Regions from separate parts of the Homo sapiens genome. Here region 2 is linked to region 1. A link means that fine-mapping ties the variant in region 1 to the expression of a gene that starts in the linked region. Tissue or cell type: whole blood. Region 1 holds a variant in brackets; the other region holds the start of a gene. All regions are shown on one strand. Distances are between the middles of the regions.

Region 1 (7,530 bases):
GTTTGGCTTTGCCAAACACACATATTCCACAGCCTACGGGAGGACTATGGAGATCCATGAGGGTAGCCTTCACACATGTTCACGGAACACACATGCACATGACATGTGATGCATGCTTACCTTGAGGTGGAGGCTTCACATGTAAATGTATTCCAATTAGGTCTTTCCAGGACTCAAAGGTGCTCAAGTGCACAGCGTCTGTAAACTGGCCAGGACTAGCCCAAGGTCGTGGTCTCTCATCAGCAGAAAGCTCTTGAAGTCAGTGTCTTGTCCAGTGAATGCTGCCATCATGGCTGGTGGAGCAGGGGGTCGGAGAGTCAGCCTCTGTGAGCTGGGTAAGCTGCAATTGTCTTAATGTTGCTTAGCTGGAGGCCAGTGCTTGGTTAGCTGCTGGAGTAAAAGAAAACCCTTGCAGCAGTGAAAACATGGTTTATTCTTTAAGTGTAGGGTGCTGACTTAACCCTTAGGTCTTGTTTATAATTTGTCACCTTATTGCCACAAAGACTCCATCCTGTGTCTGTGTTTTTTTAAAAAATTCTCTTAACCTCACCTGGACTGTCTCTATGTTAACATGAATGCTGTCAGTTGTGTCTAAACCTCAACAGAAAGGGGTATAATGAGATGTGTCTGACTCCCACCCTATCATGGCCAGAAACTCAGTTTTTAAGGTTCTATGGGGTCCCTTTTACCAACAGAGTGTCTGTGCAGTTGGTTAGGGGTGCTTAGGATTTTATTTTTAGTTTACAGTCTCTAAATCAGGAGACACAGACCGGCTGGCCTATTTGTAGATATGCCAATTAGCATCCAGTGAAGGCTGGCCCCGGGTTTATGTGAAATGAGGAGGGTGAAACCCCAACCTGCAAGACCCTGGGCCCAAATTGCAGTAGCAACAATGCCAAAGTTGCAGCATTTTTCACAAAACAACTCTCACCTATTATTTTCCTTGAATTTCTTGTCATAGCAAGTGCGGAAGATTCACCAGAACCATCAGGCAGAACCACACATTTGTTTTCAGAAATGTCTTTCCTTTCTTTCCACAATGTTGCTTTGGCTTAAATGTTTGTGTCAGAGACGTGTGAACCAGAGCAACTCCATCTTGAATAGGGGCTGGGTAAAATAAGGCTGAGACCTGCTGGGCTGCATTCCCAGGAGATTAAGGAGGTTAAGGCATTCTAAGTCACAGGATGAGACAGGAGGTTAGCACAAGATACAGGTCATAAAGACGCTGCTCATAAAACAGGTTGCAGTAAACAAGCTGCCCCAAACCCACCAAAACCAAGATGGCGATGAGAGTGACCTCTGGTCATCCTCACCACTACACTCCCACCAGTGCTATGACAGTTTACAAATGCCATGGCAACATCCAGAAGTTACCCTATATGGTCTAAAAAGAGGAGAAACCCTCAGCTCTGGGAATTGCCCACACCTTTCCTGGGAGACTCATGAATAATCCCCACCTTATTTAGCATATAATCAAGAAATAAACATAAAAATGGGCAACCAGCGCACCATGCCACTGCTCTGCCTATGGATTAGTCATTTTTTATTCCTTTACTTTCTTAATAAACTTGCTTTCACTTTATGGATTTGCCTCAAATTCTTTCTTGCACCAGATCCAAGAACCCTTTTTTGGGGTTTGGACTGGGACCCCTTTCGGGTAACATTTGTGTCCCCAGCCCAAACTCATCTGTGGAAGCCCCAACCCTCAATGTGAGGATGGCATAGGAGGTGGGGCCTTGGGGAGATAATTAGGTCATCAAGGTGGAGCCCTCACTGATGGGATTAGGGCCACTGTAAAATGGACTCCAGAGAGCTGCCTCACCCCTTCCATCACATGAGGTTGCAACCACAAGACTGCACTCTACAGCCCAGAAGAGGACCCTCACCAGACCCCAGCCCTGCTGACACCTTCATCTTGAACTTTCAGCCTCCAGACTGTGATCAAAAATTCTATTGTCTACAAATTGCTCAGTCTCTGGTGTTTTGTCATAGCAGCTTGAAGTGACTGAGACAAATGTCCTCACTTGAGGATGAGGCATCAGCATTATCATGGAAGGACTACCAATGATCATGGTGACTTTTTTTCTTCTTTATTTCTTTAAACTGACAAAAATTGTATATATGGTGTACAAGGTACTGTTTTGAAATATGTATTGTGTTGGGAATATGGATTGGGGAATGGCTAAATCAAGCTAATTAACATAGACATTACCTCACATATTTATTTGTGGTGAGAACACCTAAAATCTACTCTCTTAGCAATTTTCATGTACTACATTGCTGTGAATTATAGTCATTGTGTTGTACATTAGATGTCTTGAACTGACTCCTCCTGTGTCAGCGTGCCCTAGCCCCCTCCTGTGCCCTTTAGTCAGCGTCTCTGGCCCCCAGATCCTGGTGACCATCATTCCACTCTCTGCTTTATGATATCAACCTCTTTAGATTCCGCATAGAAGTGAGATTATGCAGTGTTTGTCTTTCCATATCTGGCTAATTTCACTTAACGTAATGTTCTCATTTCACCCCTGTTGTCACAAATGAGGGAATTTCATTATGTTTTAAGGCCGGAATAGTATTTCATTGTACATATGTACCATATTTTCTTTACTCATTCATCCGACAATGGATACTTAGGTTAACTCCATGTCTTGGTTATTGTAAATGGTGCTGCAGTGAACATGGTGCAGATCTCTCTTCTGGATACGGATTTCATTTCCTTTAGATATATCCCCAGCAGTGGGGTTGCTATATCGTTTGGGAATTCTATTTTGAATTTAATAATGTTTTCCATAATAACTGTACTATCACGGTGATTTTGAAGATCAATATATCTCCACAGGGTAGACAGCTACACCATCATTAAAAAAAGAGAACAGTGGCCGGGCGTGGTGGCTCATGCCTGTAATCCCAGCACTTTGGGAGGCCAAGGCGGGCAGATCACAAGGTCAGGGATTCGAGACCAGCCCGGCCAACATGGTGAAACCCCATCTCTACTAAAGATACAAAAAATTAGCCAGGCATGGTGACGCAGCGCCTGTACTCCCAGCTACTTGGGAGGCTGAGGCAGGAGAATCGCTTGAACCCAGGAGGCAGAGGTTGCAGTGAGCCGAGATCGCACCATTGCACTCCAGCCTGGGGGACAGGGTGAGACTCCATCTAAAAAAAAAAGAGAACAGTGAAAATGAGAGACAAAAGTAGCTGATTCCCAGCTTCAATTTTGTCTATAATACTAATTTTCATGAAGAGCAACATAAACTCCTTGGAGTGCAGTTAAGTCCATATCTGGAGTCAAAAAAACAAAAATTCAAAACAAAACAAAACACCCATGATAGGTCTGAAATAACTTTTTGCTGTCAGAAAGCAAAGATGAGCCGGGTGCCAGTGGCTCACACCTGTAATCCCAGCACTTTGGGAGGCCGAGGTTAGAGTTCAAGGCCATCCTGGGCAATATAGGGAGAACCTGCCTACAAAACAAAACAAAACAAAAACAAAAACAAACAAACAAAAAAAACCAAAAACACGCACACACACACAAAACAAAAAACCAATTAGGCGCTGTGGTACTCACCTGTAGTACCAGCTACTTGGGAGGCTGAGGCGGGAGGATTGCTTGAGCCAGGAGTTTTGAAGCCACAGTGAGCCTGATTAGGCGGCAGAGCTAGACCCCGTCTCAGCAAAACAAAAACAAAACAAAAACAAAAGCAAAGGTGCTTCCAACAATCAGGGTGATCCTAAAATGACAGAGCAGCGTTTTGAAAATACCTCCCCGGGGCTGCAATGTGACCATTTGAGCACTAAAAACAACCATACAAATGGTTAATTAGAACATGCCCCATTTATAAAAGGAGGAAAGTTAACATACACGTTTCTAATAAGACAACAAAAGGATGGAAATAACATTGTGTTGAATTTTTGTTGATTTTGTTAAAAAGGAGCGCGTTGACACATAGGGGGATTTTGTTTCTTTAAGTTCATGTCTGTTTATATAAAGTTTAGGTCTGGGTGTGTGTGTGTACCTGTGTAAGCAGGAAAGAGTAAACAAAATCGAGAGCCCGGGACAAATGCACTTAAGAAGGGGCGACGGGAGGGCCAGGCTCGCCGGGCTGAGTGCT[G/C]AGGAGGGGGCGCGTCCCACCCATGCAAGCCCGGAACAAAGGCGCCTGTCACTCGTCACTCTCCACGCGGGCTGGCTCTGGAAAGCCCAAAGGAAAAAACCCTCACTTTCAGGAAGAATAAGCCTCAGCCCATGTATCTAGGGAACACGTGATGCTGCAAGAAACCAGTGACTTAACGCGTGTAAAAGCAGGAGAGCGTCAGAGGTTCTGACCCCGGGGGAGGAGCAGACCCGCGGCAGCGTGCGGAGACTTAGCGGGCGGAATCTGCCACCAACGCAACCTGGCCCAGAGGTTTTGAACTGACCAACTGGGAGACGTCCCCGAGCTTGAATAAGGGCCTCAAAAGCTTAGCGTTTTATGCAGAGTCGCAACCACCCAGCGCTGGGAACCTGAGCCTGCACAACCCACTAGAAAGCACCCGTGACCGTCCCCTGCGCCCGTTATCCCTGCGCCCCGCACCCCTGTATCCCCGGCTTCTCTGCAGCTGTACACCCTGCACTGCGGCGCCCCCCAGTCCCGCTGTCCGCTCCATCGCGCAGGTCTCCAAAACGAATCCCGGCTTGGAGGGGCTCAGCGGCCCTGGGCCTGTGCGCCGTTGCGGCCGGGAGGGTCATTTTCATGCCTAAGGACCCGCCCCTTGCACGCAACCTCGGGTAGCCAGCCGGAAACGGCGTCCCGGGCTCCAAAGGACATCTCTTTTTACATTTCAGCAAAACAGCCGCACACCTTCTCCCCAGATGGCCTCTGTGCAGCCTGAAAATGCCCGCTCCCTCCAAGTCCCTGGGCAATTGCTGGGACGCATCTCAGAGACTGCGCGGGGCGGAGAAGGGGTATGTGTTTGGGCCACTAATTTGATTTTCTTGGAAACTTTCTTCCAGTCCAAACCGGAGTCAGCTCCTCTCACCCTTGTAGAAAAGCATCCCGTGGGGGCGGGGCGGGGTGGGTTGGGGCCCAGCGTTGGGGGGTTGGGGGGGCGGTCAACACACCACCCTCCCGCCCTTTGTTAAGCTATTGAAGTTCAATTTCATTCCTTCTCCGTCTTCCATTGACCAGAGAGGAAAGGAATCCTTTGAATTTTTTTTTTAAGTTCATCAAATATCCATTTAGCATCTACTATGTGCCAGGCATAGCTGTTAGTACTTGGGGTGAACGCATCAGATGAAAACATGCCTCCCTGGAGCTTGCAATTTAGTGGAGGAGGAGGTGAGAGTAAACGTGAGGTGATGGCACGGTGTTGGAGGGGTGTTCACTATAGGCAGAGGGCGCCAGGAGGCCGGTGGTCGCGTAGGACAGGGAAGGCTGCAGTTGGAGAGCAAACCTGGAGGAGCAGCCGCGGTAAGGCCCAGAGTGCGAAGACGCCGCGTCTAAGGGCAGCAGAGGGGACCTGGAACTGGAGGGTTGGAAGAAGGGTGGTCACAGGCAAGCAGAAGGGGGCCTCAGAAAGACTGGACCTTGTTTTGAGTTTTTGGAGGAACCTCCGTCCTATTTTCCGTGATGGCTGCACCAGTTTACATTCCCCTCAACAGCGTGCGAAGGGTCCCTTTTCTCCACATCGTGACCAACACTTGTTGTCTCTTGTCTTTTTGATATTAGCCATTCTAACAGGTGTTCGGAGACATTTCATTCTGATTCTGATTTGCATTTTCCTGAATTTTATTTATTTATTTATTTTTTGCGACAGGGTCTCCCTCTGTGGCCCAGGCTGGAGTGCAGTGGTGCAATCTCGGCTCACTGCAACCTAGACTTCCCGGGCTCGAGGGATACTCCCGCCTCAGCCTCTGGACTAGATGGGACCTCAGGAACGACCACGCCCCGCTGATTTTTAAAAATTTTTTGTACAGACGGAGTCTTCCTATGTTGCCCAGGCTGGTCTCCAAAGCCTGGGCTCTAGCAATCCTCCCACCTTAGGCTCTGGGATTAGAGGCATGAGCCACCCTACCGACCCTCCTAGATTAGTAATGTTGAACACCTATTCATATGCCTGTTGGCCATATGTATGCCTTCTTGGGAGAAATGCCTATTTAGGTCCTTTGTCTATTTTTAAAGTTAGGTTATTTGGTTCTTGTTTTGGTTTTGTTTTTTGCTAATAAGTTGTAGGAGCTCTTATATATTTTGGGTATTAACCCCTTACCAGATGTTTGGTTTGCAAATGTTTTCACCCATCCATAGGTTGCCTTTTAATTTTGTTGATCCAGCCATCTCACTTCTGAGTATGCCCAATGGAAATAAAATCACTGTCATAAAGAGATACTTGCACTCCCATGTTAATTACAGCACTATTCATAATAGCTGAGATACAGAAACAACCTAAATGTCCATCAGTGAATGAATAAAGAAAACGTGGTATAGATATTAGTGTTACATGCTATACTACACTATAATAATGAAAATTATTCAGGTCTAAAAAAGAAGGAAACCATGTCAACAACATGGATGAACCCAGAGGACATTATGCTAAGTGAAATAAGCCAGGCACAGAAAGACAAATAATACTGCATGAGCCAACTTATATATGGAATCTAAAAAAGTCAGGGGCTGGGTGAGGAGGAGTACAAAGCTTCAGCTATAAGATAAGTAGTTCTGGAGACCTGAAGCACAGCATGGAGACTCTGGTTAATAACATATCATGGACATAAAATTTACTGAGTAGATCTTACATGTTGTCACCGCACACACAGACACATGCACACACACACAGGTAACCACATGAGGTGATGTGTGTGTTAATTGATTTGACTGTGGTAATCATTTCACCACGTGACATGTACCAAGACATCATGCTGTGCACCTTGAATATGTACGAGCTTTATTTGTAGATCATACTGTCAGAGGCATTTGAGTTAGAGCAACTCCATCTTGAATAGGGGCTGGGTAAAATAAGGCTGAGACCTGCTGGACTGCATTCCCAGGAGGTTAGGCATTCTAAGTTACAGGATGAGATAGGAGGTCGGCACAAGATATAGGTCACAAAGACCTTGCTAATGAAACAGCACGCGGTAAAGAAGGCAGCCAAATCCCACCAAAACCAAGATGGCGACTAATGTGACCTCTGGTCGTCCTCACTGCTCATTATAATACATTAATTATCATTAATTATAAGTAAAAGATACTCCCAACAGCATCATGACAATTTACAAATGCCATGGAAACATCAGGAAGTTACCCTATATGGTCTATAAAGGGAAGGAACCCTCAGGTCCAAGAATTGCTCACCCCTTTCCTGGGAAACGCATGAATAATTCACCCCTTGTTTAGCATATAATCAAGAAATGACCATAAAAGTGGCCAACCAGTAGCCCTCAGAGCTGCTCTGCCTATGGAGTAGCCATTCTTTTATCCCTTCACTTTCTTCCTTTTTTTTTTAATGGTGAAAATATATGCATATATTTAGAATTAGCCAGCTGGACTCAGTTTAGAT
Region 2 (7,530 bases), 42 kb after region 1:
ATAAATGTGTCTGCCTTTTCTCCAATTGATCTGCCTTTTGCAATTTTTCTTTCTTTTTTTTTTTTTTTTGAGACAGAGTCTGGCTCTGTCACCCAGGCTGGAGTGCAGTGATGCTATGTCAGCTCACTGTAGCCTCCGTCTCCTGGGTTCAAGCGATTCTCCTGCCTCAGCCTCCCGAGTAGCTGGGACTACAGGCATGCAGCACCATGCCCAGCTAATTTTTGTATTTTCAGTAGAGATGGGGTTTCACCGTGTTGGCCAGGATGGTCTCCATCTCCTGGCCTTGTGATCTGCCAGCCTCGGCCTCCCAAAGTGCTGGGATTACAGGCGTGAGCCACCGCGACCAGCCTTTTGCAATTTTTCATCAAAATTTGAGAGGACCAAGGGTTCCCCTTGGCACCTACACCAGCCACCCTGTCTTGGGAAGTGGGGATGCTGGCACCACACAATGTGGATTCTGCTGGTGGTAAGGGAGAGAGGCTTTCAGGCAACAATCTTTGCCAGTGTATACTTCCAAAAGTCTCTAATGCACACATGTGCAAGTTCATGGCTGCTACCATTTGCTAAGCCATGCCCCTAGTATTGGACCTTCAAGGTTTTTTTTTTTTTCTCCAAAATGAATAGTGATATGACATACATTTCTCTTTCTTTCTTCTCTTTCTTCCTCTCCCTTCCTCCCTCCCTCCCTTCCTTTCTCTCTTTCTTTCCTTCCTTCTTTTTCTCCTTCCTTCCTTCCTTTTCTTTCTTTCCTTCCTTTCTTCTTTTTCTTTTCCCTTTCTTCCTTCCTTCCTCTCTCCCTCCACTCCTTCCTTCTCTCCCCCACCCCCCGCCCCCACCTCTCTCTCTCTCTCTCTCTCTCTTTCTTTTTTTTAAGACAAGGTCTTAAAAAATTCTCTCATTTCCCAGGCTGGAGTGCAGTGGCATGATCACGGCTCACTACAGGCTCAATCTCCTGTGCTCGGGTGATCCTCCCACCTCAGCCTCCCAAGTAGTTGGGTCCACAGGTGCGTGCCACCACGCCCAGCTAAATTTTAAAAATTTTCTGTACAGACAGGTTCTTGCCATGTTCCCCAGGCTGGTGTTGAACTACTGGGCTCAAGCTATCCACTCACCTCAGCCTCCCAAAGTGCTGGGATTAACAGGCATGAGCCACCTCTCCCAGCCACATTTCTAAACAAAACAAAACAGCCCAATTTTTTACAACCCAATTTTTATTATTTTCATTTCCTGTTATTTTTATAGTTTGTTTTCTAAGAAAAGGAATTCCAATCAGAAAATCCTTAATCGATACTGCTACGTGGATTACAAGAAGCAGTATTCACAGAATCAAGTGTTTTTTTTGTTTGTTTGTTTTCTGTTTTTTGTTTTTTTGAAATGGAGTTTCACTCTGTTGCCCAGGCTGGAGTGCAGTGGTGTGATCTCGGCTCACTGCAACCTCCACCGCCCAGGTTCAAGCGATTCTCCTGCCTCAGCCACCCAAATAGCTGGGATTACAGGCACGTGCCACCATGCCTGGCTAATTTTTGTATTTTTTTTTTTTTTTTGAAACTGAGGGAGTCTTGCTCTGTCGCCAGGTTGGAGTGTAGTGGCATGATCTCGGCTCACTGCAACCTTCGTCTCCCGGTTCCAGCTATTCTCCTGCCTCAGCCTCTCAAGTAGCTGGGACCACAGGCGTGCACCACCATGCCCAACTAATTTTTGTATTTTTAGTAGAGACGGGGTTTCACCATGTTGGCCAGGATGGTCTCGATCTCTTGATCTTGTGATCCACCTGCCTCAGCCTCCCAAAGTGCTGGGATTACAGGCGTGTGCCACCACATCCAGCCTAATTTTTGTATTTTTAGTAGAGATAGGGTTTCACTATGTTGGCCAGGCTGGTCTTGAACTCCTGACCTCAGATGATTCACCCGCCTCGGCCTCCCAAAGTGCTGTGTTTACAGGCCTGAGCCACGGCTCCCGGCCAAGTTTCCTTTTTTTTGTTTGGTCTGCTTACTTAATAGTGGAAAGAAAGAGAGTCTCGTTTTATTTTCCTCTTTCTTAACTGGGCAGAGTGTACATTTTTTTCTCATGTGTGTTCAATCATTTGTGTGCTTTTTTTTTTGTGATTTGAAAAATCCCATGACAAGGTGTATTTTCCATCATGCTTTTCCTTACCTAATTTTATAAACTCTTTGTATATTTGTGGTTACAATGTTCCTAATTTGGCTATTTGCCTTTAATTATAATTTTTGATATTTTCTCATTCACAAGATTAGTTCATTATGAAGTTTGCTCATTTTTTATATTTTTTACTTTTCTCTCCAGCAAGTTCCTAGTTGACTCAACAATATCAGCAAGGCTCGGCTGGAAGCCTCTAATCTTTACTACACAGAAATAACCTCGGTTTACTATTCATGTTTCCCACGGGCATCTAGTGCATTTCCAAGTCGATTTAAAAAATCTTCACAAAGACAAAAATACCTCATTAGATCCTGCGCTTGCTTGGAATACAGATTTATAAAAATTTTTTTTTGTTTTTGTTTTTTAAGACAGAGTCTCGCTCTGTCGCCAGGCTAGAGTGCAGTGGCACGATCTTGGCTCACCGCAACCTCCGACTCCCTGGTTCAAGTGATTCTCCTGCCTCAGCCTCCTGAGTAGCTGGGATTACAGGCATGCGCCACCACGCCCGGCTAATTTGTGTATTTTTAGTAGAGACGGGGTTTCACCATGAGCCAGGATGGTCTCATATCTTGACCTTGTGATCCGCTCGCCTCGGCCTCGCAAAGTGCTGGGATTAGAGACGTGAGCCACGGCGCCCGGCCCAGATTAATTTTTTAAAATGCAAAACTTGCACAATCTTATTTTAACCATGCTTGCTTGTTTTCAAAATAATTAAAAAACAAAAACACAAGATTGCTCTTCCCAAAGGCTTATTTCTTTCCTTTAAATTTATTTTTTAAAGAAAAGCTAACGGCCGGGTGTAGTGGCTCACGCCTGTAATCCCAGCACTTTGGGAGGCAGAGGCGGGTGGATTACGAGGTCAGGAGTTCGAGGCCAGCCTGGCCAACATGGTGAAACCCCGTCTGTACTAAAAATACAAAAATTAGCCGGGCGTCGTGGCAGGCGCCTGCAATACCGGCTACTCGGGGGGCTGAGGCAGGAGAATCGCTTGAACCCGGGACGCGGAGGTTGCAGTGAGCCGAGATCGCGCCACTGCACTCAAGCCTGCCTGGCAACAGAGCGAGGCTGTCTCAAAAAAGAAAGAAAAGCAAAGCAAAGCTAACAAATGCTCTTCTGTCATGCATCATCACAGAATCAATGAGAGCTCCCCCCAGCCAGGAGACAGCGGACAACCAGGGTAGCTTCCCAGGGGGCCAGAGGGAGGCTGCGCGAGAAGAGGCTCAGCGGGATGGGTCCACGCAGGGAGATCCCACGCAGGGTGGGCGTATACGAGTGTCCACGTCCGGAGGGCCGTTCAAGGGCGGGTCCCTGAAGGAAGGGTGCACGCAGGGCACGTCCACGCGGGCAGGCCCGTGCACGCAGGGCGTGCCCATGCAGGGCGGGTCCGTGCAGGATGAGAGCAGCGGAGGAGGCCCACGCAGGCCATTTCCCGCCCCGTCCCCAGCCCACGCGGGCGAGCTACCGCGGGGGTACGCGCAGCTCAGATCCTAGCAGCTTACAAAAACAACCTTTTAAAAATGGAACCTTCAAGTAAAAATAAAACTTTGTTTCCCTCTTTCGCAGGAGTTACTGAAGTAGGAAGGGACAGCCCAGTAAGATTTCAGGATACGACTTGGGCCGGTCCGCAGGCAGTAGAGTGAAGCGCGCAGCTGCCAGGACTTGCGCGGTGACGTGCGCCGCTGCCAGGACCTTGCAGGTGGAGAGCATAGTTGCCAAAATCAAGGCGGAGGAGCGCACCGCCGCTAGGATCCAGGCGGAGAAGCCCACCGCGGCCAGGACCTAAGGATGCAGTACACTGCTGCCAGGATCTTGTCTGTGGAGCGCAGCGCGGCCAGGACCTCCGGCTGCAGCACACCGCTGCCAGGATCTTATCGGCAGAGCGCTCCGCGGTCCGGACCCCGCCCCGTGCGCGTCCCCGACCCCGCCCCGTGCGCGTCCCCGGCGTTGGCGTCTTCGTCCTGTTGCTGGTCTCCGTCCGGTCGCCGGCCGTCTAGGTCTCCGGCCCTCCCCAGCCGCTCCTGCGCCCTTGCCGGCCCCGCCGCCCGCAGCCCTGGCGCTCCCTGCGGGCCCCGCCGAGGCCGCCTGCGCCCTGTGCCAGCGCGCGCCCCGGGAACCGGTGCGCGCCGACTGCGGCCACCGCTTCTGTCGGGCGTGCGTGGTGCGCTTCTGGGCCGAGGAGGACGGGCCCTTCCCGTGCCCCGAGTGCGCCGACGACTGCTGGCAGCGCGCCGTGGAGCCCGGCAGGCCCCCGCTCAGCCGCCGCCTTCTGGCGCTCGAGGAGGCGGCCGCGGCGCCCGCGCGCGACGGCCCGGCCAGCGAGGCCGCGCTGCAGCTGCTGTGCCGCGCCGACGCCGGCCCGCTCTGCGCCGCCTGCCGTATGGCTGCGGGCCCCGAGCCGCCCGAGTGGGAACCGCGCTGGAGGAAGGCGCTGCGCGGCAAGGTGCGCGCCGCGGGGTCCCGTGCCCCACCCCGGACGGTGCCCTGCGCCTCTCCGCCCCCGCCCCGGTCCCCCTGAGCCCTGGGCCCTTCCCGTCTCCACTGTTCCTGTCCCCGGATTGTCCCCGTCCCCGGATTGTCCCCCTCCCCTCACCGCCACGGGTCCCCTCTCCAGCGTGTGCTGGGCCCCTCCCTCCTGCGGCTTGCCTCCCCATATTTCCTGCGTCTCTTCGGAGTCTGGTCCCCTTCCCCGTCTTGGTGTCCCCTGCTGGGCGGTGCCTTATCTCCCCACCCCCTACCTTCTACGAAGTCCTTCCCCCACCAGCGCCCATCTTTGTGGTCCCATCACTAGCTGTGCCCTGTCTCGCCCTCATAGACCCCCTCTAGTTCCTACAGATTGACTCCTCCACTCACTCTTCCCTTGGGGGAGACATCACGCCTCTTGCCCCTCTGTATTCCACTGTGTCCACAGGCCTGGCCCACCTTCTCGTCTGCTCCCCGGGCCACCCAGCCCTCGCCTGCACCCCCTGTCCCCTCTCCCATCTTTCAGAAACCCGCTCTGAGAGTCTGGCAGCAGCGGGTCCGGGAGTCTGGAGCCTTGCCCATGGCGGGTTGGTTGTGGGACACAGAATAGGAGACAACAGCCAGCCTGGGGTCCTGCTCTTCAATACAGGGGAGGGGAAGCCAGCCAGACTGTGTCCCTGGGTGCTCCTCCTGCATTGGGGGTCCTGCCACCGGGCAGAGCGACCCCCATCCGGCTCAGGCAGGGCAGGGTGTAGGGCAGGCTGTGCAGACCTTTGGTACAGGCCGAACTCACACTGAACAGGGCCACTTACAGACACAGAACTCCTAAACCCACCTAGACAGTCCCCTTAGCCCCAGCACCCAGATCCTTCTGAATAGGTGTGAAGCCCAAGAAACCTTTTGACTGCCTGTGCGTTCCTGCCCTAGACAACCGGGCTTCGAGGTTATCTCTGGGATGGTCAGACTGTGTGCAGTCAGCTGGGGTGATGTCCCTCAGTACTGGGCTGGGTTGGGGGACCCAGAGCTTCTGCCCACCCCTGGTGACCTTCTTTTCTTTACAGGAGAACAAGGGGTCTGTGGAAATCATGAGAAAGGACTTGAATGACGCCCGGGACCTGCATGGCCAGGCAGAGTCAGCAGCTGCAGTGTGGAAGGCAAGTGGGGGGACCTGGGGCAGCCTGGAATGAGGGGACTGTGGGCTCAGGGCTCTAGACAAAGGGACCACCAGGCCAAGTGGGCCAGGCCTCTGAACTGCTCAGCTGGTTGGTTGGAGGAGGGGCCTCTGGACTTAAGTGAGCTTCAGGGTATTTTTTTTAGGATGTGTTTGTATTTCTCAAATAGAATCTAGCCAAAGCCAGTGGAAGCCTCTTTTTCTCCTCACATTTTACCTGTAGGTGATGGCAGCATCAGACTTCTTTTTTTTTTCCCAAGAGACAGAGTCTCACTTCATTACCCAGGCTGAAGTGCAATGGCATGATTGTAGCTCACTGCAGCTCGAACTGGCCTCAGGCGATCCTCCCACCTCAGCCTCTGGGACTATAGGCACGTGCTACCACACCTGGTTAATTTTAAAATGCTTTTCTAGAGGTGGGGGTCTTGCTGTGTTGCCCAGGCTGGTCTCAAACTCCTGACCTTAAGCGGTTCTCCCGCCTTGGCCTCCCAAAGTGCTATTTTTTTTTTCTTTTTTAGAACACATCTGTAATTTTCTGTGGTCCTCTTGTTCTGATCTGAGAGTTGCTCATTATTTTTTAGAGGCTAGAAGTCCAAGATGAAGGAACTGGCAGATTCCCTGTCTGGTGAGGGCGTTTCCTGGTTCATAGATGGTGTCTTCTCACTGTGTCCTCACATGGTGGAAGAAGTGAGGGTGTCTCTGGGGCCTTTGTGTAAGGACACTGATTCCGTTCTTGAGAGTTCCACCCTCACAACCTCATCACCTCCCAAGGGTCCTGCCTCCTAACGCCATCACCTGAGGGATGAGGATTTCAGCATGGGGATTTGGGGAGGACACAGACATTCAGACCAGAGCAGCGTTACTTTCCTTGGGTGCCTTCCACAGTATTATATCCCAAGGGGACATCCCATAGATTCTTTTAGGTTACTCACCAGTAAAGCTCTTTAGTCGTTTAAACTCTATTTGGTGACTTTTTCCTCGTGTAGTAAAAACCTGTGTGCCATTTTCTCTGCGTTTCATAAATTCCTATCTCCTTCTTTTAACCTGAAAGACAGAGTGCTTTTCACAGGTGCAGCAGCTCTTGGGTAACTGGCTGCATCTCGAGGCTGAGGCCCACGTTTTTACCCCAGCTTGAGGCTGAGGTGGGCTCTGTGCTCCTGGTGCTGCCAAGCCCTTGCCTGCTATCCACAGGCCTGAGGTGCAGGCCTCCCTCAGACAGTGACGGGTTACACATGGGGTCCCTGATGCCACTCAGACCCCTGGCACTCCACACTGCCCTTGGGGCTGCTCTGAACTTCTCCTTGCCTTGTGAGTGGTCAACACTGCCCAGTGCAAGTGAGGCTGGAAGGCTTTGGGGACCTCCAAGTTTTCAGTAACCCTGTGTTACCCCAAGGGAATTGTTTTGCCCACAGATTTTAGCAGGTTGGAGCTTTCAATCTGTCCTGTTTTGGGGGTTTGTGGCTTAGATGCTGGGATGAGAGAAGCCACCTAAATCCAAAGGAAGGAGTTTGCAGCGTGTTGCATCAGCCAGCCAGCAGACACCCAGCTGTCATTTGCATTCTCAGCAACAAAAGCCTTGGCCCCTCATGACTATGGGTGTCACCTGCCCTGTGTGGCCCAGGGCCAGGTGGAAGCCATCCATGACTGAGTAAAATCAGAGTAGCATCCTGCTCTGCTCTCCTGTTTGCAAGGTTAGGAGTTGGCTGAAAACCAGCTGAAGAGTGGCAAGTGTGAATGCT

Evidence for each region. PIP is the estimated chance that this variant, and not a neighbour inherited with it, causes the effect.
Region 2: it holds the start of RNF187, and the variant in region 1 is fine-mapped to the expression of RNF187 in whole blood (TOPMed, PIP above 0.99).

Annotation. Positions count from the first base shown.
Region 1 is chr1:228,441,637-228,449,166 of GRCh38, forward strand. It overlaps LOC124904538 (a long non-coding RNA gene), which reads right to left and starts at 3,396. Exons shown (of 2, transcript XR_007066919.1): 1 at 121-3,396. It also overlaps the pseudogene RPL23AP15. The variant G/C (reference allele first, on the strand shown) is at 4,113.
Region 2 is chr1:228,483,279-228,490,808 of GRCh38, forward strand. RNF187 (ring finger protein 187) reads left to right here and starts at 4,104. Exons shown (of 4, transcript NM_001010858.3): 1 at 4,104-4,600; 2 at 5,682-5,774. The coding sequence starts at 4,211. RefSeq lists enhancers at 2,982-3,843, 3,163-3,542, 3,844-4,704, 4,822-5,550, 5,551-6,278 and 1 more and silencers at 4,163-4,282, 4,543-4,742.